Homo sapiens: one gene and its partners. The protein of the gene in region 2 purifies or fractionates together with the protein of the main gene of each other region. This does not show direct contact. Each region holds a gene or a part of one and is shown on either strand. Other genes may lie near its edges.

What was found.
Region 1: the proteins of TMEM74 (region 2) and CANT1 purify together in Homo sapiens (co-immunoprecipitation; 2 studies listed by BioGRID and IntAct, with this or other methods). This does not show direct contact.
Region 3: the proteins of TMEM74 (region 2) and POMGNT2 purify together in Homo sapiens (co-immunoprecipitation; 2 studies listed by BioGRID and IntAct, with this or other methods). This does not show direct contact.
Region 4: the proteins of TMEM74 (region 2) and LEMD3 purify together in Homo sapiens (co-immunoprecipitation; 2 studies listed by BioGRID and IntAct, with this or other methods). This does not show direct contact.

What each region holds. Positions count from the first base shown.
Region 1 is NC_000017.11:79,006,757-79,013,987, forward strand, and holds the start of CANT1 (soluble calcium-activated nucleotidase 1), read right to left. Parts: upstream 3,009-7,231; 5' UTR 2,908-3,008; intron 1-2,907.
Region 2 is NC_000008.11:108,784,592-108,792,129, forward strand, and holds the start of TMEM74 (transmembrane protein 74), read right to left. Parts: upstream 3,004-7,538; 5' UTR 2,885-3,003; intron 547-2,884; 5' UTR 508-546; coding exon 1-507. UniProt on the Homo sapiens protein: Plays an essential role in autophagy. TMEM74-induced autophagy may involve PI3K signal transduction.
Region 3 is NC_000003.12:43,103,067-43,110,032, reverse strand, and holds the start of POMGNT2 (protein O-linked-mannose beta-1,4-N-acetylglucosaminyltransferase 2), read left to right. Parts: upstream 1-3,953; 5' UTR 3,954-4,197; intron 4,198-6,966. UniProt on the Homo sapiens protein: O-linked mannose beta-1,4-N-acetylglucosaminyltransferase that transfers UDP-N-acetyl-D-glucosamine to the 4-position of the mannose to generate N-acetyl-D-glucosamine-beta-1,4-O-D-mannosylprotein.
Region 4 is NC_000012.12:65,165,648-65,172,600, reverse strand, and holds the start of LEMD3 (inner nuclear membrane protein Man1), read right to left. Parts: upstream 3,019-6,953; 5' UTR 3,005-3,018; coding exon 1,483-3,004; intron 1-1,482.

The DNA of each region.
Region 1 (7,231 bases), on a different chromosome or scaffold from region 2:
AAAATAACGGGATGGGATCATCGCCCCATGGACCTGGATCAGGGCTGCCTTCCACACCGCGGTGGCACCTGCACGAGCCCACCTGCTTACTGCCACCTTCTCTCCTCACGCTTTCCTCCAGGCTCGGCTCCCGGGACACAAAGGCCGAATCGCCAGGACTTTCACTCAACCCGGCAACACCCTCAGAGCCATTCTGGGGGGTCCCAGTCTCACCTCTGCCCCACTCCCACATGGTGGCATCACGCACTGTCTTAAGTCTTAAGCCAGACTTCAACGCCTTCTTCACTTCCCATAAAACCATCCCAGAGGAACGCGGGGAGCAGCGTCCTGCCTGGGAACCAGGCGCTCCACATGACCACTGCACGCATGACAAAGACGAGCAGGGTCCAAAACAAAAAACAGAACGTCTCCCCAAACAGACTTCTCTACTGCCAGGATGATTTTTTCCTAATTAACCATCTTGATTAAAGTAAAAGGAAAATCAACATGAACATTCTTAAGAATTAATATAAAAGTTTCTAATTCCCTTGATATTGGCATTTCATAAGAGCTTTCCAGGAAATCTCGATAGTTCAGAGTGCACTGAGTGAAAAGAATGAATGCTGTGTGTCCTTGGCATCCCTGGTACCATTCAACAAACAATAGAAAAATGACCTCCTTGTGATAGTACTGACCCATTTCAGGACCTGGACAATAGTTCCAAGTCTCAGATCTTCTGTTTTTGAAAGAGAAAACACTACAGCATTTATACATCTACCTATCTACCTATACGGTTGCCAGAAAGTACCGAGACTCCGAGGACGGGCCATATGTACTTGGGGGAGCCTGCACAGGCACACACACCTCGAAAGCCACATCCAGGTGGCAGGGTAAAAACACCCACAGGGCCAGGAGAACTGCTGCTACCACACCCTGGGTCTCCTCACGTACTCTGCAGCTCAGGGGGGTCCTGCAGACCAGGTGCACAGTGACGGGTGAGTGAAAACGTTCTGGAGTACCAAGAGCTTTTACACCAACACATTTACTAAGCTGCCATGGGCTAGGAAAATATGGTTATAGCCTAAGGGGAAGAAAGGAGACCTCTGGCAATCAGAAGCGTCAAGCCTCAGATGTGCCCCTCCAGCGAGGTGTCCCAGGGTCCAGGGGTCCTATCCCGCTGCGAGTGGAGGGTTCCCTCTACCACCTTGTGACATGTCATTCTCTTTTGTGATCACGTTAATTTGGACATGAAAAAGTGACACTAGAAGTTGGTCCCCACACTGCTGCGGTGGCCTCATGACAGTGCCTGGACAAATCCATGCTTCACCTGAGTCCTGGCCGTGAAGATGCCTGGGGCTGCCCCGACAGGAAACCCTTGCCACGTCCAGAGGGGAGAGGGTTGGCTCCTTCAGTGTGCCTTTCAGCAGGGGCGTGTGCTAGGATAGAGGGCTCATTGAGGCCAGCAGGGAGGAGCACCTGGGAGGAGCCCCACTGCCGTTCCACAGGCTCCAGCCAGACTGTCCTGCTGAGAGGCCTGCGGTGGGGCTGCAGGGAGGGTCTGTGGTCCAGGCCTGGAGGGACCTTTCTCAGCAAAGCTCCTCAGAGGGAGAGGGAGGAAGAGCTGGGAGATAGCGGATCCTGAAGGGCTGCGGCACCCGCTTCCTTTTAGGAGCCTTCTACGACCTGACACTTGTTTCAAGTTTGGGCCCTTACACTGGAGAGCTAGCCGGATTCACTTGACACCAAGAGCCTCACATTTCCAAACCTCTGCTTTGTTGAAAATGTGGTAGGAAAGGCCATAGGGCATACAACCTCAAGAATAAAATAAGAAATGGAGCTGGGACACTAAGAGACGGCTTTTCCAGGGGTCACTAAGGGGGAAAGGTGTTTGGGAGAGAGATGTGTCTGCTGATGGAAGAGTGGTCACAGGTGCTCTGTGCCAAGCCTAGGGTACACAGAGGGCAAGGGAAAGACCATTCGGAGGGAGAAGCAAAGGCACCAGGCAACATGGACTGGCAAGGAGGTACCAGTCTCCAAGGATGAGAGAATCCAGACCGGATGGCAGTAGGGGTGTGAGACAGGTATGGTGGGGAGGGCGAATCATTTGCATGCAGGAAGATGAGAGTGAGCTGTGTGCCTGGAGGAAGGCTCCAAATTGGATGAGGGCAGGGAGAGCAAGGACTGGGATGGGGTGGGGAAGGTTGGCCTGTTACAGGTTTGACCAAGTGCCAGTCAGAGGGAGAAAATTCCCTTATCAGTCCAAGGAGACCCTGCATAGACCAGAGGAGGGGTATTTGAAGTCAGAAGGTGGTGGGAGGGGGTCATTCCCAGGAGGGGTGCCCCACACTAGCCAGAGCGGGGAGGCGTCCCACACTAATCAGAGGGGGATGGTCCCCACACTAACCAGAGGGGGAGGTGCCCCACATGAATCAGAGGGGGGTGGTCCCCACACTAATCAGAGCGGGGAGGTGCCCCACAGTAATCAGAGGGGGATGGTCCCCAAACTAATTAGAAGGGGGGTGTCCCACACTAATCAGAGCGGGGAGGAGTCACATAATCAGAGGGGGGAGGTGCCCACACTAATCAGAGGGGAATGGTCCCCACACTAATTAGAGAGGAGGGGTGCCCACACTAACCAGAGGGTAATGGTCCCCACGCTAGTCCCAGGGATGAGGTGTCCCAAAAGTCAGAGGGGGTGGTGTCCACCGCCTGTCGGAAGAAGGGGACTTTCCCACAGGTCAGAGGGCAGAGTCCCAGCCCAGTCTGCGAGTCAGGGGGCAGAGATCCCGCACGGGTGGGACGGGAAGGGGGCCTGACGGGTCAGGGGGCGGGACGCGGCAGGGTCGGAGGGCGGCGGCAGGCTCCGGGACGGGGGTCCGGGCCCGTGGCTGGGGCAGGGCGCCGGCGGCCGCGGGCGCAGTCACTCACCCGCTGCGGGGCTGGCTCCGGTGCCCGCGATCGGCGGGGCTTGGCTGGGCTTGGCTGGGCTTGGCTGGGCTAACGGCCGGGACGGAGGAAGGTGGCCGACTTCCGCCCCGCGCGCGCTCGCCCCGCCTCTGGGCCCGCGTTCCCGGCAGCCTCTGCTCTGCGGCTGCGCGCGGACGGCGCGAGGGCTGCTGGGAGCTGTGGTTTGTGTTTTTTTGGGTTTTTTTTTTGTTGTTTTTTTGTGTTTTTTTTTTCCGTCCTGCGCCTGCGCGCTGGAGGAGCGGCCGGCTGGCTGCAGGCTGGAGGGGCGCGAGGGTCCGCACTGGCACATGAGGGCCGTCTTCCACCGCGTTGCGCTGGAACGTGGGCCCAGCAGATCTTTTGGGGTGGGAGGCATTGAGGGGGGTGAAGGCTACTAGGGAGGGAAGTTCTCATTCTCCGAGCGAGGGCCCCCTTACATGGGCCTCCCGACCCTCGTAGTCTTGGGAGGCGGAAAACCGTGGGCCCCTTTCTGCCATCCTCATTCTCAGGCAGCCCCTCTCCTTGGCCCTTCAAAACAGCCGCCTCCAGAGTGCTGCTGACCAGTTGCCAAAGCCAGGATCAGGGAGGTCTAAGGCTGTAGTGTCCTGGGGTGGGGACGGTGGGGTGTTTCCCTGCAAAAAATCTGCAGTTGACAAACCTGCCAAACAAGGGTCTCTGATTTCTCCTTTCCCCTCCGTAGCCCTAGCCCCCGAGATATTTTAGGGCACTCTGTTAAAAGGCTTCCCCGGCCCCGCCCTCCTCCATCCCAAAGTTCTGAGAAAGGCCTGGTGGCCGTGGAGCCTCTGGCAGGAGAGCTTGGCAGAAGGGTGCACCAGCCCCCTGCCCATCTGCACCTTCAGCTTTCCTGCTTGATACCAGCTACTTCCCCCAGCTCTCTCAAAACCTTCCGTTCAGTAAAAGATACACAAGAGGAGGAATTCAAATTATATAAATGGTACGCAATGAAAAATAAGCCTCCCATTGCCGTTCTGTATTCCCTGCCCAGAGGCGATCACTAGATGTTATATGGTATCCAAACAAGTCATAAACACGTATCTTAAATTACCTTTAACTAAATAGAAATGTGCTAAACACTGTTATGCACTTTTGGTTTTTGATTTTGGAGAGGAGACAAACCTTTCTTGAATTCATTAATGTTTCTTGTCATGCTAAACTGAGTCCCAACCATGTCTCACATAATACTCATTATTGTCAGGCCTCTGAGCCCAAGCTAAGCCATCATATCCCCTGTGACCTGCACATATACATCCAGATGGCCTGAAGCAACTGAAGAACCACAAAAGATGACATTCCACCATTGTGATCTGTTCCTGCCCCACCCTCACTGATCAATTGACCTTATGACAATACACCCTCCCCACCCTTAGGATAATGTACTTCGTGATATTCCCTCACCCTTAAGAAGGTACTTTGTAATATTTTTCCCACCCTTGAGAATGTACTTTGTGAGATCCACCCCCTGCCCACAAAAAATTGCTCCTAACTCCACCACCTATCCCAAACCTATAAGAACTAATGATAATCCCACTACTCTTTGCTGACTCCTTTCTCGGACTCCGCCCACTTGCACCCAGGTGAAATAAACAGTCTTGTTGCTCACACAAGGCCCGTTGGTGGAATCTCTTCACATGGACGCATGTGACAATTATATTTGAATCTTTTATTTTCTAAAAGATCCACATGTGCCTTCCAGCTTAAGAAATAACACATTATTCCTGCATCTTTAAAACTCTCCAGGTTCTTCCTGTTCTGTACTCCCTGCTACCCCCAAGAGGTGGTAGCCACAATACTGAATGTTGTGTTAATCATTCTGTTGCCTTACTTTATAATTTTAGCACATAGGTATGTATCCCTAAACAATATATTGTTTAATTCTGTCTATTTTAACCTTTATAAAATGAAATAAAACTGTATGCAATAATTGAGAGATCCAGTGGCTCTCTCAGAGGCCTTCGAACCAGAGCAACACCATCTTGAATAAGGGCTGGGTAAATGAGACCTGCTGGGCTGCATTCCCAGGAAATTAGGCATTCTTAGTCACAGGATGAGATAGGAGGTTACAAGATACGGGTCACAGAGACCCTGCTGATGAAACAGGATGCAGTAAAGAAGCTGGTCAAAACCCTCCAAATCCAGGATGGCAATGAAAGTGACCTCTGGCTGTCCTTGCTGCTAATTATACCCTAATTATAATGTATTAGCATGCTGAAAGACACTCCCACCAGCACCATGATGATTTACAAATGCCATGGCAACGTCAGGAAGTTACCCTAGATGTTCTAACGGGGAAGAACCCTCAGTTCCAAGGAAATCTCCTCCCCTTTCCCAGAAAACTCATGAATAATCCACCCCTTGTTTATCATATGAGCGAGAAATAACCATAAAAATAGCCAACCAGCAGCCCTTGTGGCTGCTGTGCCCATGGAGTAGCCATTCTTTTATTGCTTTACTTTCTTCATAAACTTGCTTTCACTTTACTCTGCGGACTTGCCCCAGATTCTTTCTTGTGGAAAATCCAAGAACCCTCTCTTGGGGCCTGGACTGGAACCCCTTTCTGATAACATCTTGCTGAGAAACCATGAAGGGACAACACTGGAGAGACCTCTGACCCAAGGGAAATAGACTTCAGCACCAGTTGACCAACTTTGGGTACATGGTGGGGTATTTTATCCAGGGTAATGGATGGAATTGGGTTAGAGGCCCAAATTAGGAGAGTTAGAGTCCCTCCTAAGACACAGGGAGTTAGAGGCCCCTCTTTGTAAAGAACAAGAATGCTTGTTCAAACTTGGGTTGAAGGCTCAACTTCAGAATGTTAGAGGCCACCCTTAGTAAGAGCCCTCTTGGTTAAAAATGGATTCAGCACTGCAGGATGTTAACCGCCATTCTATTTGGATTAATTTGCCATGCCCTCTTTGCTGATGGCTGTGGGTGACAAGATTAGGCATGTGCAGGATCATGGGACCTGGGGAGCTTTTTTTCCTCCCCCAAAGGGGAAAACTTGAGAGCTGATGGGACTGCTGGAAAAGATCCCTTTTTGACAAGCAGCTGTCTGAACTTTTGATTCAGTGTCACTGTGATGGATGGGTCTTTCTCTGGCTTCTGTGAGCTCCTCACCTCTGCAACCCACCACAGGCAACACTCTTCTCCCTTCCCTTTCCTCTCTCTCGTTCTCGCCTTTCCCTTGTCTGTCTTCTCTGTCACTCTGGGTGATGATCTACTCTTCCATCTTGCCCAAAAACCACCTGTTGAAACTCCTGGTTGGCAGTCATTCCGCCCCCACTTTGAATGGATTAAACACTACAGGGGCCAATGGGGGAAGTTTTGAGCCTTGCCAGGTCGATATTGGGTGCTGAGGGGGGTGGCTAGTGTCTGTGTTTTGTCAAGTGCACTTTGTTCTGGCCAGAATGGAAAATGTTGATTCGATTCCTCCATGCAACTTGTTGTGTAGCATCTTGCAAAATTGAGAGGCTTTTCCTATGGTTCCATGAAATGGAAAAGGGTGATTTTTGCTTTGCGATGTGGCTTGGCCCCCACAGTTATGGTGCTGTGAGCAGGGTCACGAGGGCTGCTTAGGGAAAGGGATCCCAGAAACCTGGCATGCTGGCAAAAGGGTAAGAATTTCTTACCAGTCAGGCCTTTGGTCTCTCTCTCTCTATGCAAACCAGTTGAGTGAATGGTAAAAATCACTGTCTCCTCTGCAAGGTTTTGATGAATGGGAAAAAGGATTTGTGAGGCTAGTCTTAGGCTGTGATGAATCTGGTGTACTTTGTGCTATGAATTTGGCTTTCTGTGTCATTCTGTCATAAAAGGGGTATCATAGGATAGAATGTGGCCCTAGGACCCCTGTAAGCCCACTATTCAAGCTGGCCCAGCAAACTGGTCAGTTGACAACTTTGCTTCAGGTCACTGAAACAAAAACTGGATGAGGATTCCCCCTCGTCTTGTTTTATGTCCTTGGGAGCTTGACTTGTGACCATGGAGGGGTATTTTCTCTTGGTCTGTACCATCCCTGTGAGTCATGTTTTACAACCAAAATATATAAAAGAGCTCTATTTAATTGGCTTAAATAAAAATAAGCACTTAAATAAAATATTTTGCCAGAAAAATTAAAATGCTAATGCCTTTTTGTTCACATGACTTTAGTCATCTTTGGAAAAGCAAGGCAGTTTTAAAGATTATTGGTAAAATAAAAATGTCTTTGAAATTTAGACATTTGGTCTAAATTAGGCAGGTCAGATACTAGGTTTACTAAACTACTTCTCTGACTTTTGATAATTGTTCAATT
Region 2 (7,538 bases):
AGACGTGGCTTCTGAACTTGTATCATCCTCCTCTTCAGATATCAAAGATATGGCAGCCTCTTGGGACCACTCATTTGGATTTTCCCAGCCAAGCTCCCCAGGGTGATTATGCCCTTTTGCTGATGGCGAGCTCCGGTTCCGCTGCTCCAAGTTGATGTTTTTGTCCACATAGGTAAAAGAAGTTTCTAATTCCTGGCTGCAGCAGTTACAGACTTTCCGTTCCGCTGTTATTTGGTTGTTCCCTGAGTGGAGAAGTCCTGGTGGAAAGGCATCTGGCTGAAGAGTACTGTTTTGCAGAGAGGAGGAGGGGGATGCTGGAGAAGAACTAAGTTTAGACCCTTCCATCTCGGTTGCTCTTGGGGTGGATGCACACTGTTTCTGACAGCAGAGAGCAGCTCTTGTGGCTGCTGTATCTGCCTGGTCACCAGGCAGCCCTCTTGAACTCCAGTCCCTGGCATCACAGAGGTCTGCCTGGTTGCTCTTCTTAGCAAGGTAGTGGAGCTCCATGAGAGCTAGTCAGACATCCCCCAGCAGCTTCCGGAAAGTCTGCCAATAGCAACAGAGTTAGATAAGAACCCAACAGAAGCTAAGGTTGTACTTCCAGGAGTGTTGCTCCTGGGGTCCCCATTTCCTTCACAGCTGCACCTGTTTAGCCCCTTTTCCACCTCAAACAGGCAAAAGAAGGGAGGGGATACCTAGTGGCAGGAAAGTGTGGAAGGGACAAATGCTCTCACTTGTCATAGTGATTAACACTGAGAAACTTAAGTCAGGGTAGAAAGGTGCGTGGAGGAAGTGGCAGTGTCTACTGAGAAAGAATACTGCCGTCACCAAGCCAAATTTATTCAAGGACTCGCGCATTCCTGCAAAAGGATCCCTCAAACGAGAAGGCAAGTTTCCTGTAAAAAGACAAATGAGAAAGGCAAGAGCCCTTTTTAGCAGAGCTGCCGATTTTCTGGAGGACTTGGGGAAGCATAGACTTGTTAATTCAGTAAGATTGTAAGTGTTTACACTCTCCCTAGTTCAGAGCAAATTCTAATACAGATTAGCTTTGGAGCATCACCATCAGTGAATGACTATACACCCCTATCAGCTGGGCAGGAACTCAGCATTTTGATTCCATAGCTCTGAAGTAGATGAAAAAGGCCAGCTTAATCAGCCACCTCTGCTAAGCTTACACCTCATACATCCAATGACCCTAGTGACACAGCCCTGTATTTACAAGACCATATGCTGCTTATTCACTGTGCTTCCACTTAGCCCTATTCCCTCACTGCTCCATGGGGGAAGCATGTTCTGGACCCCAAAGCATACAGGCAACAGACCTTACGGCAATCCCTGCAAAATACAATGGGCCAACCCACTCCTCCACACACACACCTGCCTGCTCCAGCTGCAGGATCTGCTACTCCCGTTCCCTGGGTCTGTGTTCCTCCCTCTCTGCATGCTTTGCTATCACACAATGCACAAGAAATTGACCATCTGGATAGTTTTACAAACCCAATCTAGAAGTGAACTGATAATAAAAGACAAACTATAAACCCACAGAGTAAGAGTTCTGTGGAGACAAATAGGTGAGAAGCTATTTCCAAGGTTACCTCTGTAATTTTATAAACATGTCACTCCTCACCCCCGACTGCAGCAAGGGGCATTTCTGGGAGAGAACTTTGGTTTGAGCAGAAAACCATCGGCTTTTCTCTGCCTCTGCCATGTTTCTAAGGAATAAAAATTCACTTTCCACTATCATTAGAGATTTTAACCAAAGGCTCCTTTTATTTTGCTTCCAAATCCAGGGTGATAATTGATTTAACCCAACGGCTTGAGGCTTCTTATAATTCAAAATCCACAGCTCCAAAGCTGGTAACAGAAACACAGGCAAGGGTCACCTAAGGTCAACCTGGCAACTCAAAATATGGGAGAGGGAATTGACATGTTTTCTGCTACACCTAAGAGTTTGTTTAAAACAAAACAAAAAAAGCAAAACAGAAAACGTTTTTCTCCTGTTATCGGAGTTTCTCTACAGTGAAAACAGCAAAAAACAACAGGGCAAAAGAATCACTACTAAACTAGAACAAACCCCCACTAAAGGATCCCTCAATGAATGAAGTGATGGTAACAGGCTTCATCAATTACCGATAACTCTTCTTCCAGTTTTCTCAGGCATTAGGGGCTCTGATTAACCTTTGGTACCATTAACTCATCACACTAGCCTACCTTGGATAAAATCAGCAGGGTTCTTTGAGACTTTCAGTTTATAACAAAAGAAGAGAGAAATCCCCACTTAATTCCCTACGGCCGCCTCTACCTCTCTTTAAAGAAAAGCTACTCCCGCTTGTTCGCTTGTTCTACCGGAGGTATGCTAGCAGCACAGTCGATTTCCTTTGCAGCTCCCTAATCCGGGGTTTCCATTCTCAGTGGAGAATGGATAATCCCAGGGGACCAGCTAAAGACTCTTTTCTTCCGTCCTCTCCCTCTTTTTCCTCTGATCTGCTTAAAAGCCCAGTTAACGACATTGCACCTTAAAGCGAGGGGACACGCACTTTCCCTCGTCCATCTGTCATCAATTAAAAGCATTAATATTTGCTTTAAACTGACACAGGCAAGGCTGATCTCGGGGAGGCGACCTCTGGATGCGCCCTGTGCGAGCAAAGCCGGGAGAGCGAGCCCCAAGCACCTGGCAGCGGTGCCCCCAGCAGGCGCCGAGGAATCCGGCTATCCATTTCTGGTGAACTCTGCGCCCACTGAGGCATTCGAGGTACGGATGTGTCCGCCTAGTACTCGGAGACGAAGGAGAGAGAGCGGGGATATGCGCTCCAGCTCTGCTAGGCTCCAGGGCTCTCACCCTTGCATTCAAAGCCTCCACCCCATCCCACTCCCCGCCACTCACCTTCTGCTTCGGCCACCCGGTGCGGCTCCAGCACCGCGCGCTCTCCCGGCACGGTTCCCGGAGAAAGTCCCCCAATCACCAGCTACGGCACTTGTAGCCTCTGCACGCCGCTCGGCTCCGCCGGGTGGGCAGCGCCCGCCACGGCGGGCGGGGTGGGGCGGGGCGGGGCGCTCCCGGAGCATCCCGGGAGTTGTAGGCCAGGGGCGGTCCCTGCATCCCTCCTGTCTCTGTCTCCTCCCACGCCTTCTGGGTTTTACCCTTCCTGCAGATGAGTTCCCGCCATACCCTCTTACTCCTCCCCAGCACTTAAGAAGACAGCACTGTTTTCTAAGCCTAGAGTGGAGTTCCCTAGCCTCAGGTGTGGCCACAAGACTGTGAAAAGGAAAGTATATTCGACTTCAAATGTGCCAGATAATTTGCATATTTTGTCTTTTTAATAGTCAAAACAAATCTTCCAAGTAGATTTTATTAATCCTCATTTTACAGATGTGGAAACAGGCTCAGAGAGGGTAAGTGCCTCATCCACAGTTACCAACAGCAGCTTCTGAAATTGCATCCAGGAGTCAGATTCGAAAGTCATTGCGTGTCTCACAAAATCAGAAGAAATATGACCATAAGGGGTAAGAGATTGTCCGATGTACCAACACATCCCCTGTATTTAGCACAGTGGTATTCGTTGAATGTATGAATAATAATGACTCAAAATAACAGTTAACATAAATAGCGCTTATTATTGCCAGGCTCTCTTCTAAGCACTATAGATACATTATCTCATTTAATGGTCACAATTTATTGTTAAAGTACTGTAAAAAAAAATCCTCATTTTAACAGAAGGCAAAACTGAGTTACAAAGTAGAATAATTTGCCCAATGTCACACAACTAATACTTAGCAGAGGTGGGGGGGGGGGGATGAACACCAACAGATTCTAAGCGTTATGCTATATGGAATGAATGGAAGAAAGACCAGAAGGCCAGAATAAAAGGGCTCAGGAATAAAGGAAATCTGAAGGTTGAATCTTCTGAGTTGTGACTCTTAGGATAGGACAAGGTAACTGTGTCACCAGCCTCTTTCAACCAGAGTGGACTGCAATAGCCAACAGCCACTGAAAGCCCAGGGTATGTGTAGCTTGCAGATAATCTCCAGTTTTCCAGCATCCTGTTGGGACAATTCTAGGGGAGCAAAAAAGGATTATAGTATGGATGGGCTGGGCACGATGGCTCACGCCAGTAATGCCAGCAATTTGGGAGGCCGAGGCGGGCAGATCACGAGGTCAGAAAATCGAGACCATCCTGGCCAACATGGTGAAACCCCGTCTCTACTAAAATAGAAAAAATTAGCCGGGCGTGGTGGCGCGTGCCTGTACTCCCAGCTACTCAGGAGGCTGAGGCAGGGGAATCGCTTGAAGCCGGAGGCGGAGGTTGCAGTGAGCAGAGATCGTGCCACTGCACCACTCCAGCCTGGCGACAAAGCAAGACTCCGTCTCAAAAAAAAAAAAAAGAAAAAAAGAAAAAAGGGATTAGGGATTATAGTATGTATTATGACATTGTGCTTGTAGCTCACATAAATACTGTGGTTGCTTGCTTTCAAAAGAGAGATCTATCTCCTTTAATGACAATTATGTTGGTATTTCATTACATTGGATAGAATCTATAGTCACATGATTACAGGAGTTCACAATGCTCCCTCTTTAAAATTCTTTTTCCCCCATATGATTATATTTGTAGCCAGTGAGGCCCATTTGTTGATAAACATGACAGATGTATTATGACTTCTCCTTTGCTTACTACACGGTTCTCCAGCATGAATATCTTTCCTCCACTGCCCTATTCCATCCACACTTCAAGGACTAGTTTGTCAAGCCAAATCTACAGGGATGCATCCAGTTCTTAGTACTACATATGCAAAAAGAAATAAAGAGAGAAACTAAGATGTAGAAGGAACTTGAATTTATGTTGACGAGGAAAAACTTAGGAACTTAGGCTATTTAGCCATAGGAGAATACTGAGAGGAAACAATAAACTAGCTTCAAATATTCTGAAGTTTCTAAAAATAGAAGAAGAATTCTATAGTATATTTAAAAGGGTAAAAGCAGAACAAATAACAATAATACTTTTTTGTTAGTGCTATTATGTTATCATCTTTAATTTTTACACCAACTTCACAAGGGAGGCAGTATTATTGCACCCATTTTGCAATGTAGAAATTGAGGCTTGAAAAGATGTAGTTTCTTTTCCAAGGCCTGAAAACTAATATCGGGCAGAGCTAAGGTTCTAACTTGGGTCTGTGTGATTCCAGAGACTTGATCTCTTTGCCAACACATTATACTGAGCAATGCTTCACAATCTTTTTTACAGCAGAGTACACATAAGAGGTGATACTATTTATGGCAATGTGATAAACACAGGAGGTTTCTCATGGCCATAGTTCTGGGGCTGTGGGTACTTCAGTCTCTGCAGGACAGCTTGGAGGGCTAAGGAAATAAATAAGTCAGCACACCTGTGACACACTGGAGTGCTGGAGGATGCCAAAGCACTGATCTGAGAAGCTCTGGATAGCACTATTAAATTTAAGAAGGAGGCTGATTTGAGACTTTGTATAAGGAAGGACATTATTTCTAAAACTTTTAAATTGATGTCTCATGAAAGCAAATTCTCTGGTACTGGTGAGGATTAAAAAAAAAAAGGAGAGCCATTTATTAGTGATTTCATAGAAGGGATTCATCTAGTTGGATTAGAGGACCTCTGTGATTCCCAGGCTGAACTGATTTTAAGTTACTTTTTTTTTTTCCCTGAAGCCTTTTTCTTCCAAGGATTACACCTCCTGTGAACTTTGCTGGGACTTGTCAGTACTGGTGTTTTTGATATTTATCATCCACTGCTTTACGACATTTCTGGAATGGCTAGGTAGCCACTGCATGTGGTTTAACTTCTCACTTAGGTGCCTAAATCTCTAAGGTAATCAATCATAAACTCCTTAAGGTCAGCATCTACATGCTGAACACCTTACCTCCTGCAGAAAGTGCAGTATTTCTGTTGAGAGGGAAGATGTCAAGACTGAACTGAAGACTCGAGATGATTACCTATAATAATACTTGACTGTCTACATATTCTTGAGCATTAAAAATATATCAATTCCAACCAACACCACAAAATCCCCTTTAAAAGTCTGCTGACAAAAAATAGAGATGAACCAATTGAGCACTTGAAAATAAAAGCTCTGCAAAAATTGCCACTTGCTGGAATACTTTCCCCCTCTCTCATAAGTCTATGTCTAAAACTTTCCTGAAAATTGACCCAAGAACCTTTTTCAAAAGCCTTTCTTGTTCAACGTCCTCAACTTATCGTTACCTTTCTAACTGGCTTTCTAGTAGCATAATATGCTTTCTTTTATGCTGTTATTTTAGATATAGAAAAGTATTTCATGTATATTTTATAGTGCTTTCTATGTGATCTCTCCAGATAAAATTTAAGCTCCTTGAGAACCAACATATTCTTTCTATTTCTTTGAAGCTATATGTGGGCATGAAATAGTGCGACACATAGGCAACAGTAGTTCCTCAATATATGCTGATAAAACAATTCACAGTTGTAAAATGTTATCTAGAAATCTACATAATGATTTTGGTCTTACTCTAATTTTAATGTCTCACATTTTCCTGTTTACTTATACTCCGTTTCATGTGAGAGGAGCAATCGTTACTACACTAAGTTAACTAGTTGAAAAATAAGAAAAATTCTGAGAAGTAAATTTACCATGTAAATCAAGGGTAGTGCTGGGACTTTTAACAACCAGCCTCTTGTAATAATTACTGAGGATGTGTTCCAGTTTCTTTTTCTTCAGTAATAATAATAAGGGCTGATTAGTGGACTATTAAGGGATTATTAGTGGAGTTATTATTATGAGAGGCTGGGTCCTAGAGAAGTAAGAAAGACATTTTTGGAATAGGCTGGAGGGAGGATCAGTCATTGAATAGGGATAGCATGAGGAATATGGTCCTATACCCCATACTGGTGCTAAGAATGAAGGTGACCATAATTTAGAGAATGAAGATCTTGTTAATGAACAAGATTCTAGGAACAAAAAAAAGCATTAAATTAGAAAGGTTTCCATTTAATAAGAATGCTTACAGTGGCCAAGTAGGCATGTTACTTAAATAAAGTGGCTGAATACAGACAATAGGGATGGGGAAGATTACCGAAGTTAAGAGCAAGTGCCTTTCCCAAAAGGGGCAGTATCCCCTAACTGTTCTACCTGAGTTTTGTCTTAAGTGAATTTAGACATTAATGAAAGTCAGATATCACAATTTGTTATTCAAAATTCAATGTATTTTAAACCCTTAATGAGTCAGAGAAAAAAAAAATTATTGGGAACATTTGTTTCCCGTAGTAATAGACTAGGTAATTTAGACCTACTCACTGCATTTGGCTTTGAAGAAATGTATTTATATTTGAAACATTTAGAGAACCCAAAATTATTGCATCCAAGGAGCAAAGATTTTTTTTTTCTATCTTTTGGGGAGGGGTGGAAAAGATAGTTTTCTCTTGCTTCTGTATGTAAACACACTAAATTATTTTTTTCTCTTGTTTCTCATCTGTGATACAGACTTCAAAGTTTGTACGCCTAGGACATCTGACCTGGCTTTCACTGTGTTG
Region 3 (6,966 bases), on a different chromosome or scaffold from region 2:
GCCATAATCCAATCTGACTGGTATACTCATAAGAAGAGGAGATTGGGACACACAAGAGACACCAAGGATGGGCATCCATAGGGAAAAGGCATGTGGGGGCTCAGTAAGAAGGCGGCCATCCTCAAGCTATGGAGAGAGGCCTCAGAAGACACCAACCCTGCTGACACCTCGATCTTGGACTTCCAACCTCCAGAACGGTGAGAAGTAAATCTCTGTTTTTTAAGCTGCCCAGTCTGAAATTTTGGTATGGCAGCTCTAACACATTAATACACTCATGCAGGTCCTATCCATGTAACCTGAGCTTCCTCACAACATGGTGAATCTGTTCCCAAGGCAACCAGAGAGAGACAGAGAGAGGATGTACCACTTTTATGACCCAGTTTCAGAAGTCACATAGCATCACTTCTGACATTTTCTGTTCATTGAAGTGAGTTACTAAGTTATGCCCATATTTGAGGGAAGGGAACTAGACTCCCCCTTTCAAAGGAAAAATAGTCAAATAATTTGCAGACATATTTAAAAACCATCCCAATCTTTACCATCACCACCATGTTCATCATGCAGATTTTAAGATCCTAGCAGGCCAGCCAGGTGGAGGTGTGTATGCCCCAAGCAACTTGGATTGGGAATGTGGATCTGGAATTCAGGGCTAGAGATGTGGGTTTGGAAGGCATCCACACAGAGAAATAGAAAGGGAATATGACCCCAGACAAAGGGAGAGGGCTTGGACTTGAGGAATGCCTAACTCAGCTTGGCATGCATGAATATGGATTTAAAATGCTGGGAAAGACCTCAAAAAGCCAGCTACCTAAGCCACCTTGGATATTTAATAAAAAGAAATGTACTAGTTTTTTCCAGTCTACTAAAGCTTCCTACCAGCAATGCTCCACAGCCAGAATAGTTTTCAAAACATGATGGACTCAAAGATGATCAGTGTCTGCAAACTGGGTCCTAGGTGACTTACAGGCCATCCTGTTAGATCCTATCCAGGAGATTCAGCTTTGGCCAGAACCCAATCCCTGTCCACCTCCAGCAAGGGGCTGCTCTCTTGGACTGTTAGGTGCCTCTTTCTATCAGTGACTATGACTGGCTATCTTATAGAGACCCATAAACTCAACATAGGAGCTTTTTAAAACTTAGAAGTTTTTTAAACAACTTATATTTAAAATAACAAAACAATATATGTTCACTTCAGAATAAATTCATACAGGTAACCAGCAAGATGACAATAAAAAAACACCCATAGTCTTACCACCCTGGGTCATGGCTCATTGAAATTTTGCTGATATCCTTCTGTGCTCTGTGCTGTTACTGTGCACAAATATATTCTTTTTAAAAATGGGATCTTATGGAATATTTTATACTTTTTTCATTAAATATGATATAATGTGAAATGTCTTCCACTCTATTAAGTAAATACTATTTTGCAGCATCTTTTCAATGATTTCTGAGATGATCTGTGATTTTACTTAATCCTGCATGACTGAGGAATTAAGCAGTTTCCAAATTTGTTTTTTTTCCTACTTTTTATCTTGAAATAATTATAGATTTGTGAAAATCTATAATAAGATAGTACAGAGAGGAATCTCTTCATCCAGTTTCCCCCAATGGTTACATTGTACGTAATTATAATACAATATAAAAATCAGGAATTTAACCTTGATAGAAAGTTTGTGTGTAGTTTTAGTCATTTTATCACATGTGTAGATTTGTGTAACCACTACCACAATCAAGACAAAGAACTATTTCATCAGTACAAAGGCTTCCCTTCTGTTACCCTTATATATTCACACCTACACCCTGTCTTCAACCTCTGACAACCACTAATATTTTCTCCATCTCTATAGTTTTGTCATTTCAAGAATGTTATACAAATGGCAACCAGAGTATGTAACCTTTTGAGACTGACTTTTTTTCACCCAGCATAATGCCCAAGTTGTGGCATGTGTCAATTGTGCCTTTCTATTGTTGAATGATATTCTTTATATAGATGTAATCACAGTTTATTTAACCATTCACCTATCGAGGGGCATTTTGTTTGTTGACAGTTTTTGACAATTACAAATAAAGAAAGTAGGAACAATTGTGTACAAGTTTGTGTGTTAACATAAGTTTCCATTTCTCTGGAATAGATGCTCAGGAGTGTGATTGATGAGTCATATGGGAAGCATATGTTTAGTTTTTTAAAAGAAACTACCATGATATACCCATCTGTGAGTAATATATGAGAGATCCAGTTCTGTGCATACTCACCAGCATTTGCTATTTTATTTTTTAAGCTGTTTTGTAGTTGTTGTTGTTGTTTGTTTGTTTTTGAGATGGAGTCTTGCTCTGTAGCCCAGACTGGAGTGCAGTGGCGCGATCTCGGTTCACTGCAACCTCCGCCTCCTGGGTTCAAGTGATTCTCCCCTGCCTCAGCCTCCTGAGTAGCCGGGTTTACAGACGCGCACCAACACATCCAGCTAATTTTTGTATTTTTAGTAGAGACGAGGTTTCACCATGTTGGCCAGGCTGGTCTTGAACTCCTGACCTCGTGATTCGCCAGCCATGGCCTCCCAAAGTGCTGGCATTACAGGCATGAGCCACCGCGCCCTGCCTTTTTAAGCTGTTTTAAATAGGTGTATGGTGATATCTCAGCATAGTCTTAATTTGCATTTCCTTTATGGCTAGTGATGAACATCTGTCCTTATTTGCCATCTGTATAACTACTTTGGTAAAATATATATTAATGTCTTCTGTATATTTAAAAACTTATGATCCAGGATACAGTTTATCTTAATATATATACCAAGGTTGCTTGAAAAGAATGTGTATTCTGTTGGTGGGTGAAGTATTATGTAAATATCAATTAGATTAGGATGGTATTAGTGTTGATCTTTTCTATATCCTTGCTGACTTTCTGTCTAGTGTTCTATCAGTTGTTGAGAGAGGGATGCTGAAGTTTCCAATTACAGTTGCAGAGTTGTCTATTTCTAATTATGGTTCTATCATTTGATTTATTTATGTTAAGGCTATGTCGTTAGGTGTATCCACATTTAGAATTATGTCTTCTTGGTGAATTGAACCTTTTATCATTATATAATTATCCCTTTTTTATTCTTGGTAATTTTCCTTGCTGTCAATTCTACTCTCTCTGAAAGTAATATCACCACTTCAGCCTTTCAGTTTATTATCATCTAAACAACACTATTCAGCCTTTGCAGTCATCCACAATTATTAGAATTTCTTGGTTAGAGGCTTTTGACTACATGTTTTTAAAGGTTTTTGGCTGTATTGACAAATTGCCCTGCAAAAATTTACCAACTTAATACCTTAACATTTGGGCTAATTTAAAATAATCATAAATTAAAGTCAGGGCTTTCCCAATTTGATAGGTAGAAATCTTATAACTCTATGGAGGTGGAGTTGGTGGTGGTAGGTGCATCTCTAGATGACTTAAGTTCAAAAAAAGTCAAGAGATCTAAAAAAGAAGTCAAAAGATCTAAAATTCATAACTCAAGAAATAGGGGCATATGTATATTCGGAGAATCCGCGGGAATGCCAGATGCCACAGCCATAAGTAGCTGCCCTTGAGGACTGGACAGCCAGGACTGGACGGTGGGATAAGGTGACAGCTGGTTAATGGAATGGTGCCGCAGAGGACTGGTGCTTTTGTAAGTTCTCTGTAGCATTACAATTTTTAAAAGCATGTAAACGTATTAATTACCTTGACTTTACAATGACATTTGGTTGTTGGTTAAACTTGCATTTAAATTTATTATCAGAACTGCCATAACTGTGTAATCCTAACACTAAGTAAAACTCAGCCTCTCGGCGCAAATTATCACTCCCAACATTCCGCAGGCTGGTGGCGGCGCGGGCTGTCCTCGTACGCAAAACTACACCTCCCAGGATTCCGCGAGCCAAGGTTGTGGCCGGGGCCAGGGCAACCGAACTCGCGGCTCTGCGCAGGCGCACAGGCTCCGCGCCGGGCTCGCCCGCCGGGCAGGCGCACGGCGGACACCTGCGAGCCTGGAGGTGGCGGTCGCTGCGAACCCGGCGGCGCGGCCAAACCTGTGCTGGCTGCCTGGGCCTTCTGGGCCTCCTGGGCCAGAAGCTGGCGCTGGGGGCGGCGGCGGGGTGGGAAAGCGGCGCCGCCGTGGGGCCTCCTGGACGCGTCGGCGGAGGTGGCTTCGTCCCGCGGAGTCCAGGCTTCAGGTAAGACGCGCGCGCGCTTGGGGCTGGAGCGGACTCCGACACCCGCCTGGGACTTGAAGTGGAGGTGTCGAACCCTCGGCCCCCTGGAGGGGACGACGCGGTGCTGGGCCCCGGGGTGAGGGGGAGGTTCTAGGACGCCTTCGGGATCCAGGAGAGTTTGCAGAACTGAGGGGTGACGTGTGAAGCGAGCTGAGGGAGGCGCGGGAGGTGGGCGGGGCGGGGGTGGACCCTCAGGGTCGGGGGCCGGGGATTGGGGGTCGGGGGCCGGGGGCCGGGGACCTGGGCAACGCCCTGGGGCTTGCCAGTTCGAGCCCTCAGCTCGTGGCAGGCACTGGCGTCGGGTCCTCAGGCCCTTTTGCTTTGGGAGGTGATGGGTGGTGCACATTTGGCGGGGGTGGTGGGGAGCCACGCGAGGTGCGCGGAGCGGGCCTGGGCCTCCCCAACTGCCTTTGAAGGCAGAACCCCGGCAGGCCTGCAGCTGATTCCTGGGCGCTTTGGGGGCCAGTAGGGCACCTACCATGTGTGTCCGGTGGTAAGAGCTTGCCACGGCCTGCTTGGCAGTGCCAGAGTAGCCTCTGAAGAAGGAACCCAGTGAACTCCTGACTCCATGTGTGTGTTTAGGAACCCGTCTCCAGCTCACTGATGGGAACTCTCTGCTAAAGTATGTGACCGTCAGGCCAGAGTCTTGCACCAGGTGCAGGGCGACCAGTGTCTGCCTACTTTATTGCCAGCCAACACTTAGAGCGTACTCTTGGGAGAAGCAAGGCTCCGCGTGGAAAAGGATGACTTCAGGGTTATGGGGCGAGCTTGATAGGACTTAGTAGCTAAGAGCATAGACAGAGGAGGTTTCATTCACCAAATGTTTACTACAATATGTGCCCCGCCTTCAAATCTTGGTTCTCGGCTACTAGCGGTGTGCGTTTAAGCAAGTCACTTATCCTCTCTTAGCCTCTGTTTCTTTCTCTGTGAAGTGGAGATGAAAGTACAGTGCCTTTATCACGGGGTTGCAGTGGGGATGAAATAGTGCCAGGCAAGTCCTCAGCCCAGTATGTCTAACAGTAAGTGTGTGGCAAATATCAGCAGTCGTGGTGACTAACGACAGAAAGTGTTAGAGGTGCTTGGAGTCCAGGTTCATCTTTAATGGTACTAGCTGCCCTCTCTGGCTCTCATGAATCTTGCAGATCTTCCAGCTCATCCTTTCAATATTAATTTTGAGGAATCTCAGTCCCTGCAGAGCTAGGAAAGAGCATAGGTCCCCTCATCCCCAGGGGTGGTCAGCACGTTCCTTCCTGAGCCTTGGGCCCCTGCGAGAACGAGAAGGAGAGTGGAGATCTTCAGCAGAAAGGAGGGCATGGTGCTGGTGGCTGGGCCCACCGTGGCCATGTAAGCATGCTAGTTGGCAAGTTCTTGCTCTGAGCCTTGCTTTAGAAAATATTTAGCAATAAACAAAGCCTTCTAGTAAATATTGCACTAACTAGAAAATTAGATTACCAAATCCCCCATTCCAAGGGTCCTTGCCAATCTCAGCTTGGTTGTCAGTGGGATACTTTCCCCCCAGGACCTACCAATCACGTGATTCCCAGGGTTTCTTAAATTGGATGAAATAATGAATGTGAAAGGTGGAACCTGCAAATGTCATCACGGGCTTTGGAGTCCGTCTTGGTTTTGAATCCTAACCCCTCTACTTAATTGCTGTGTATCACTGGGCAATTCACTTAATGCCTCTAAGCATACCTTCTTAAATGTGAAATTGAATTAATAGCATTTACTTCAGGTAGTGGGGAATAAATGAGATAATGCGTGTAAAACAGTTAGCACTGTGCCTGGCTGAGAGTGAAAGCCAGTGAACAGGAGTTATTTTACCATTACGATTAATAATAATATTAGAAAAATAATTGTCAGACATGGTGTTTTGCCTTTGCTGTCTCTTTGAATTCACAAAACTACCCTGTGAAGTAGGTATAATTGTGTTTTTCAAGCCAGGAAGTGAAGGCTTGGAGAGGTAAAGAATTGGCCTAAGGTCACTTAGCTGCTAAGTGACAGGGATGGGAATTCATATCCTGGCATCTCCAGCTCCAGAACTGGTGCCATGTAATTCTCCTTCTCTGCTGCCCATCGTCCTTGCTGTTCTTGCATTCTTGAAGCCCAGTTATGACCTGGGGCAGCCTCCAGTCTTGCAGCAGGGAGTCTTCCCGCACCAAGTGGGTCAGAGGCAGGACCCTGCAGCCTGGCTGTGTGTTTCCTCTCTGTGGCTGGTGTTGGATGCATGGTGAAGCTGTAGGGGACAGTCCCTGAGTGAGTTCAGGGGAGGAGGTGTTAGGAAGAGGCAGCCCAGGCAAGCCCTGTCGCCTCTTTAGGGTCTCATCACTGGACAGCAGGGCTGGGTGAGGGGGCAGTGCTGGGTGAGGGTGCAGGCTGGGTGGGATCTGGGAAGCTTGTGTATGAGAAGAAATGCCTTCGTTTAGCTCCTGGGAAATGTTCTGGGGCTGCATAATTCTCTGAGCCTTATCTTTGCTTTGTGAGGGAGAGCAGCCCTTGAGCTGTGGATAAGGGAGGAGAAGGAGCCCTGGACTGAGAGCCAACATTCTGCCATTTTAATCCTGGCTGCCTGTGAGAGCTCACACTGCCTCTCCAGACCTCTTTTATGAAATAAAGAGTTGGAGGAAATCATTTCTAAGGGTTCTTGTAGCTCTAAAGGGCAGTGGTTTTGTAATTCTAAATTGATGGCCTAACCCTCTCAGCACAGTACCAGGGCACATGGGATAAATT
Region 4 (6,953 bases), on a different chromosome or scaffold from region 2:
CCCAAATATTTGGGGCAGGACACAATACACTCATGCTCCCAGGGAATAAACTAAAGTGAGAGCTGAATTTCATTCTTGTTTCAACCCCTGTAATTAAGCAACAGAGTAAAAATCTATTATTTGACTGTCTCGGAATTGGCTATATCTAAATCTAAGCTTACATTATTTTGACTCCTACTCTTTATCTGAGTTGGCTAACTGCATCTTTCACTCTATTTTGAAATAAAACTAATAAGCCAATTTTATAAATACAAATAAAAATACAGTGAATTCATCTTGGGTGAAAAGAGTAGGAAGCCTTCAGGGAGAATGCAGAGAGGGACCTAACACTGAGAAATTATGTATTCAGAAGTCCATTTTGTCCTAATTTACTTTCTCTTTTAATCTTCACAAACATTCTAGTCAATAGAGGCCTCATCTTATAGATTAGGAAAGTTCAGAAGCTTTAACTCTGACTCTCTCCCCTTTGCTCAAGGTGCTTAACCACTCTAACCTACAAGAAGGCTCTTGCTCAACTCAAGGCCTTAATCTCTGCTCAGAATGGTCTACTGTTTCTCCACAAGGCTGTCTCCTTCTGCTTCAGGTCTCACCTCAAATAGTACCTCCTCCGTTCAATCTAAAGTAGTGTACACCTACGTCAGTGTAGTCTGGTAAATTTTTTTAAAAAAGGAAAAAAAATAAAGTTGTGTACGCCAATTACTCATCTTTATTTCCTTCAGAGAACACAAAATGGTCTGTATTCATCTTCTTTTTGTGTTTAAGGGCAGAGATACTTTGATTATGACAATGAACACACCTGCCTACAGTCATTTAGCAAGTAAATAGTAGGACCTGGAAACCAATCCAAGGAAATCTGACTGCAAGCTCCTGCACTGCCCTACCACTACTTTTTGTACAGATGATAGGGAAAGTGCTTTGGGCTGGGAAATAAATTAAGAGGTGTGCCTTGCTGCTTTTTTATATTCATTCACTATAAAGAAATTATACATACAGTTAATACCACAAAATATTTAATCCGAATTTATGCATACAGTTAATATTATAAAATAATTCGAATTTCAAGAGCTATTACATTGCCTATTAGAATCACAACTCAATTTGGAAAAACACTACATTTATAATGTGCCTTATCCTAATACTTCAAATTTGTTAAGTAACTGGCATCTGCGCAAATAGTCTTTCAGGGCTAAAAGAGAATTGTCACATATACAAATGAGTTTTACTAACAAGCTTATAATATTCTTTTAAAAATTGTTTTGAATTTCACAATACATCATGCAGAAAACTTTTAAAACCAGCCATATGACATCATTTCGATAATGGTGTTCTTTAAGAAAGATGACACATGCACGCACTGTTGCGTTTTTGCTGTTAAACCATATTCTTGCAGGTAAGTCACTTCATGTAAAACGCTAAGCGCGGCTAAAGCGGACCACTAACAACATTCTCTTTGTTACCTTACCCACAGGATTTAATACTTACTGCTGAGTTCTCCATCCTCAGATACTCCTGTCCCTCTCATTCCTAGGTAAGTCAGTCCCAGTATTAGGAAAAATAAGCAGGCAGCAGTTAAGAGAAACATCGACAAGTAGTGGGCACTGAAACTCCCTGTTGGGGACACCTCCTCCCGTTTAAATTGCTGGAGAAGTTCCTCTTCGGGTTCGGAAAGCTTCGGTTTGTTGTATGTGTTTTTCAGGTAGGTATGATTGGAGCCCGTATGATTGGCGTGATTGATCCTGAGTGAACTAGAGGCGGCCACCGCCGCACTGGGAGGGAGACTGTTAGAATAAATCCTGGGGGAGTCCACACTGAAGGCCCCACCGCCAATATGATTATTGGTTTTCAGAAGGGAGCCTGTTGACGAATCCAAGGTTGAGTCCATGTCAGTAAGTGGCGGGGGCAGGAGAGGGGTCAGTTTCTTAGCGTTAACACGGTATCTAGGAACGGGGCTGGAGTCCACTTGATCACACCCTCCTCCCTGCTCCGCGGCCGCCGCCTCTTCGAGGTTTCGGCTCCTGTCTAGACTCCCGGCAGCCGCCGCCCTGTCATTCATCGCGAGTCCTCCCCCTCCCTGAACTGAAGTCTCCAGCCTGCCGCCGGCCGATTTAGCAGTCAGCGGGGGGAGAGGCTTACTATGGGTTCGTCTGGGCCGATGCCGGGAAAGGGAGTCGTCCTTTAATACCTGTCTGCTGGAGGCCACGTCGTCGTCGTCCTCTTCCTCTGAGTCCGAATAGTTTTCCCGGCAGCTGTAGGGGACAAGCCGGCTGCCATTCACGGTCCGGCTCGCCCAGAGCGGCTCCTCGGTCTCCGGGTCCCTCTCCTCACCGTCCTCTCCCTCCCCTTCCTCGTCCTCCACTGCTCCATCTTTCCCCGGCGGGGTCTGCAGCTCGGGGCCCGCCGGCCTCCTGGCCCCCCACCACGAGTGGGGCTTCCTTCGCTCTGCAGAGTTGCTGTTAGTCACCTCGCTGGCGGCCAGGGGCGCCGGCGGCGCTTTGAGCCCGCGGTACTGGAGCGAAGCCCGGTCTTTCCTCCCGCCGCCGCCGGCCTGGTCCCGGGGACTGGCCTCCACGTCCGACTCGTCCGAGCTGAAGCCCAGCAGCACTTTGCTGCCAGCCGCGGGGGCGGCGGAGGCGCCCCCGGGCCCTCCCAGGAGGCTCTCTGGGCCAGAGGCCGAGATTCGGCACAGGCCCCCAGGAGTCCGTAAGTAGGAGAGGTCGCCCGAGACCGGCCGGACCCCCATCCCCGCGGCCGCCGCCGCCGCTGGTCCCGCGGCTGCGACCGTGGCGGCTGCCGTGTTATTGTTATTACTGTTCCGCGTCTTGTTGCCGCGGCCCCCTGACCGGTGCTGTTGCTGCTCTTCCTCTCGAAGCTTCTTCAGCTTCTTGAGGTAGACCGGGCGGGTGCTCTCCGTCACTGGTCCGGGAGACAGGCCGTAACGGCGGAGCTGAGAGAAAAGCTCCTCATCCGAGAGCTGCTGAGGCGCCGAAGCTGCTGCCGCCGCCATTTTCTCTCCAGGGTGTTTTACAAGCTCCGCGCTACCGGAAGTGACGCGCCGCCCTAGACCCTGAACTAGACCGCGCTGCGTCGCCCTCCCAGCGCCGCGGGCATCTCGGCCAATGGGAGGCGCGGGAGGAGCTCACCTGAGCGGGAAAGAGCCACCTGAGCAGCGCGCGGCTCCCACGGCGGAGACTGTTTCTACTCTCTCACCTTGAGGTGTCGGCGCATTCTCCCCCTGCTCTCTATCTCATCTCCAGCTGTTCTCCGCCCTGCCCTTCCAAGTGCCGTTCCCGGGAGCTGTCTCTTACTAAACCACACCTTGACCTCACCTTCCTAGGTTCCTGCCACCGGGCAGTAATAACTGAAATCTACCTTGAAGTTTATGGCGTAAGTTTTCTTTACATCTGGATTCCCAATGCCGAGGGAGCCTAGACCTACTGAAAGAAATTCTGCTGGCCAGACTAGATTGGCAGCTTTCCCGTCTGACTTCAGGTTGTCTATTTTCAGTTCGTCTTTAGCTTGACCTACCAAAAAAAAAAAATTTTTAAGTGACTTTCTCTCGCTGCTCTTTTTGAGAAGCCTCACCTCTCTCATTCTGAGAAGATACGGAGTACACCAATCACAATACAATTTTCTTCTAGCGTAATGGCTGTTCATTCATTAGTTAATTGTAAGATATTATCTTTTTTTCCTTTTTTGAAACCTAATGACTTTACTACGTCAGCACTTGAAAGTGAAAGAGCTTGTCTGCTTCATTCTAAGACTCTCAGAGACATAACACATGATCCTATTTATTTCCTTCTTAGCACCTTTCCAACCAATAGTTATTTATCAGTTATTAATAAATATTTGTTTACTTTCAAAATTATTTATTGTCCTATCCTTTTGGACTATAATAAGCTCCATGTGTGGAGGAACCTTGCTTCTGTTACTCACAATACTAGTAGAAGCTCAATAAATATTTGTTGAATGAATTAAAGAATTGCAAAGAGAGGATAGTATGAGATGAATATTTTGAAATAAGACTAGTGCCAGGTGAGGTGGAGAAACCTTCACACAAAGTCAAAAAAACAAGGACAAGACCTGGAACCCCAACTCTGCCATTTACAGAATAGGAAATGAATCCCAGAGAGGTGAAATGTGCCCCATGTGGTGAAGATCTTGTCCCATTTTCCCATTTCCCCAAACCTTGGCAGACAGACAATTCTTTAGTACTTCAATCCTAGTAGCTACAAAATACTACAATAATTTTTTGTTGTTGAATGAGTTATTTTACCTATTACATTACCCTATACACCTGTACAGAAAAACGTTAGTCAAAAGCATAAATACGGCCGGGCGCGGTGGCTCACGCCTGTAATCCTAGCACTTTGGGAGGCGGGGCGGGGGGCGGGGGTCAGGGGACGGATCACGAGGTCAGGAGTTTGAGACCAGCCTGGCCAACATGGTGAAACCCCGTCTCTACTAAAAATACAAAAAAATTAGCCGGGCGTGGTGGCAGGCGCCTGTAATCTCAGCTACTCGGGAGGCTGAGGCAGGAGAATCGCTTGATCCCGGGGAAGGCAGAGGTTGCAATGAGCCGAGATCGCGCCACTGCACTCCAGCCTGGGCAACAAGAGCGAGACTCCGTCTCAAAAAAAAAAAAAAAAAAAAAAAAAAAAGCTTTTCTGTGGAGGACACTTCCTTGTCCTCTATCATTGAGACTTTAAGATTTATAAATGTTCCTGAATCTATGACTGTTATGCACTTATAAGAGAGTTTTGAACAGTAAACTATAGTGGCTATGATGATGATGACCCAGATTTTATTGCCATAATTATCTGGGTGGGAACTAAAATTATTATAAACTTAGTGGACTTGTGTCTCCATGTAGCAGAGTGGTTAAGCTGTGAGCTTTGGAGTTAAACAAAACTAGATATGGACCCAGCCCTGTCTCTTACTTTGATTCTTGGTTCAACATTTGCTTTATGCCATACTGGCTCCTCTGATAGGAATCATAGAGCTCTGTTGGCTCAGCCTCTGATTTTCATGAACCTTTAAGTGACCTCCTATAAGGACTGTTGAACCAGTTATGTTTCTGCCTGTGACTTTGGGCAAGTTAATTCATCTTTCCGAGCTTTAGTTTCTGTACAAACAGAAGACGGATGATAAAAATTCCTCAGAAGGCTGTTTTAAGGAGTAAATAAAACTATATGTATCTGCATAATGCCTAGTACCATACGTAACACAGTGTGCACTCAATAAATGTTAGTCAATAATATAAAGCTAAGCATTGTGTGCAGCCATTTCAGTAGCATGGCTCCTGAGAACTCTATGTAATAGCAGTTAAAGAAAATGCTACTCCATAGACAAAAATGGAAATGGTCAAACTTCCCTCAAGGCATTAAGTAAGTCCAATTAAGAGTTAATGAAGATGAGCCGGGCGCAGTGGCTCATGCCTGTAATCCCAGCACTTTGGGAGGCCGAGGCGGGCGGATCACCTGAGGTCAGGAGTTGGAGACCAACCTGGGCAACATGGTGAAACGCCATCTCTACTAAAAAAAATACAAAAATTAGCCGGGCGTGATGGCGGGCGCGTGTAATCCCAGCTACTCAAAAGGCTGAGGCAGGAGAATGGCTTGAACCCGAGAGGCGGAGTTTGCAGTGAGCCGAGATAGCACCACTGCACTCCAGCCTGGGCGACAGAGGGAGACTCCACCTCAAAAAAAAAAAACAAAACAAACAAACAAAAAAACTACAAAAAAAAAATTAGCCAGGTGTGGTGGTGCATGCCTGTAATCCCAGCTACTCAGGAGGCTGAGGCAGGAGAATCGCTTGAACCCGGGAGGCAGAGTTTGCAGTGAGCCAAGATCATGCCACTGCACTCCAGCCTGCGTGATGGACCAAGGCTCGGTCTCAAAAAAAAAAACAAAACAATTTTTTTTTAAAATGTGGATGATATTGCCTACCCTACCTGGCAGACAATTCAATCAATATTTGTTGAGAATGATGAACGAACACTGTATGTGAAAATGTTGTTCAAATATTTTGTTTACAAGTTAGGTATTATCAGATATTAATAATAACGACAACTATGATTGATATACTACTTTATACTTTTCAAAGAACTTTCATATACATGACCTTGTTTGATCTACAAGAAACCTTTCCTCTCTGAAGATACTAGAGCATGATTTATTTCATGGAACTATATGGGTTTATAATTACCCTTTGTTTGGTGTTTGAGAAGACCCAACGCTTTTTCAGGAGAACCTTCACTGCCTCAACACTGTCACTGCTCACTTCCAACATTCTCCTCATTTGCTAGTGGATCTTGCTCCTGCTTCCAGACTGGCTAACACTTAAAGTATGAGGCTCTATTCTTGACTGTACCCAGATACTTGACAGGGAGTGCAATCTCAAACTCAGTCCTGCTCCATAACTTCCAAAAATCTGAGGGAAACAATTTTGATGGATTCTGGTCCAACTCTTCTTTGAGGTGCTTTTAATTTCATTTCTGCCTTAAGCCTCCTTATGAGAGACCAATGTAGCTTGGGCCACATTACTAACACGCTGTTCCTCCTACTCTCTTTCCCTACCCACCCTGTTCCCAATAGAATACCTTTCACCATGTCACCCTTTTAGCCTTGACATCAGTTTATATTGAAGAATGATATGAACGCAACATTTTGTTCAAATAAATATATTGCTGAGAGTTCATTTCATTAAAGAATGTCCTTTCTGGTCTCATTATTAGAAATAGTTGTGTTTTTCCAGAGCAACTCATTTGTTGTTGTTTTAATTTTTACTGAAATGACATTCATATAACATAACATTAATTGTTTTATATTATTTTATTTTTGAGACAAAGTCTTGCTCTGTCACCCAGGCTGGAGTGCAGTGGTGCTATTTTATGGCTGAATAATATATTTCATTGCATGAATGTGCCACTTTTTATTTATCCATTCATCCACTGA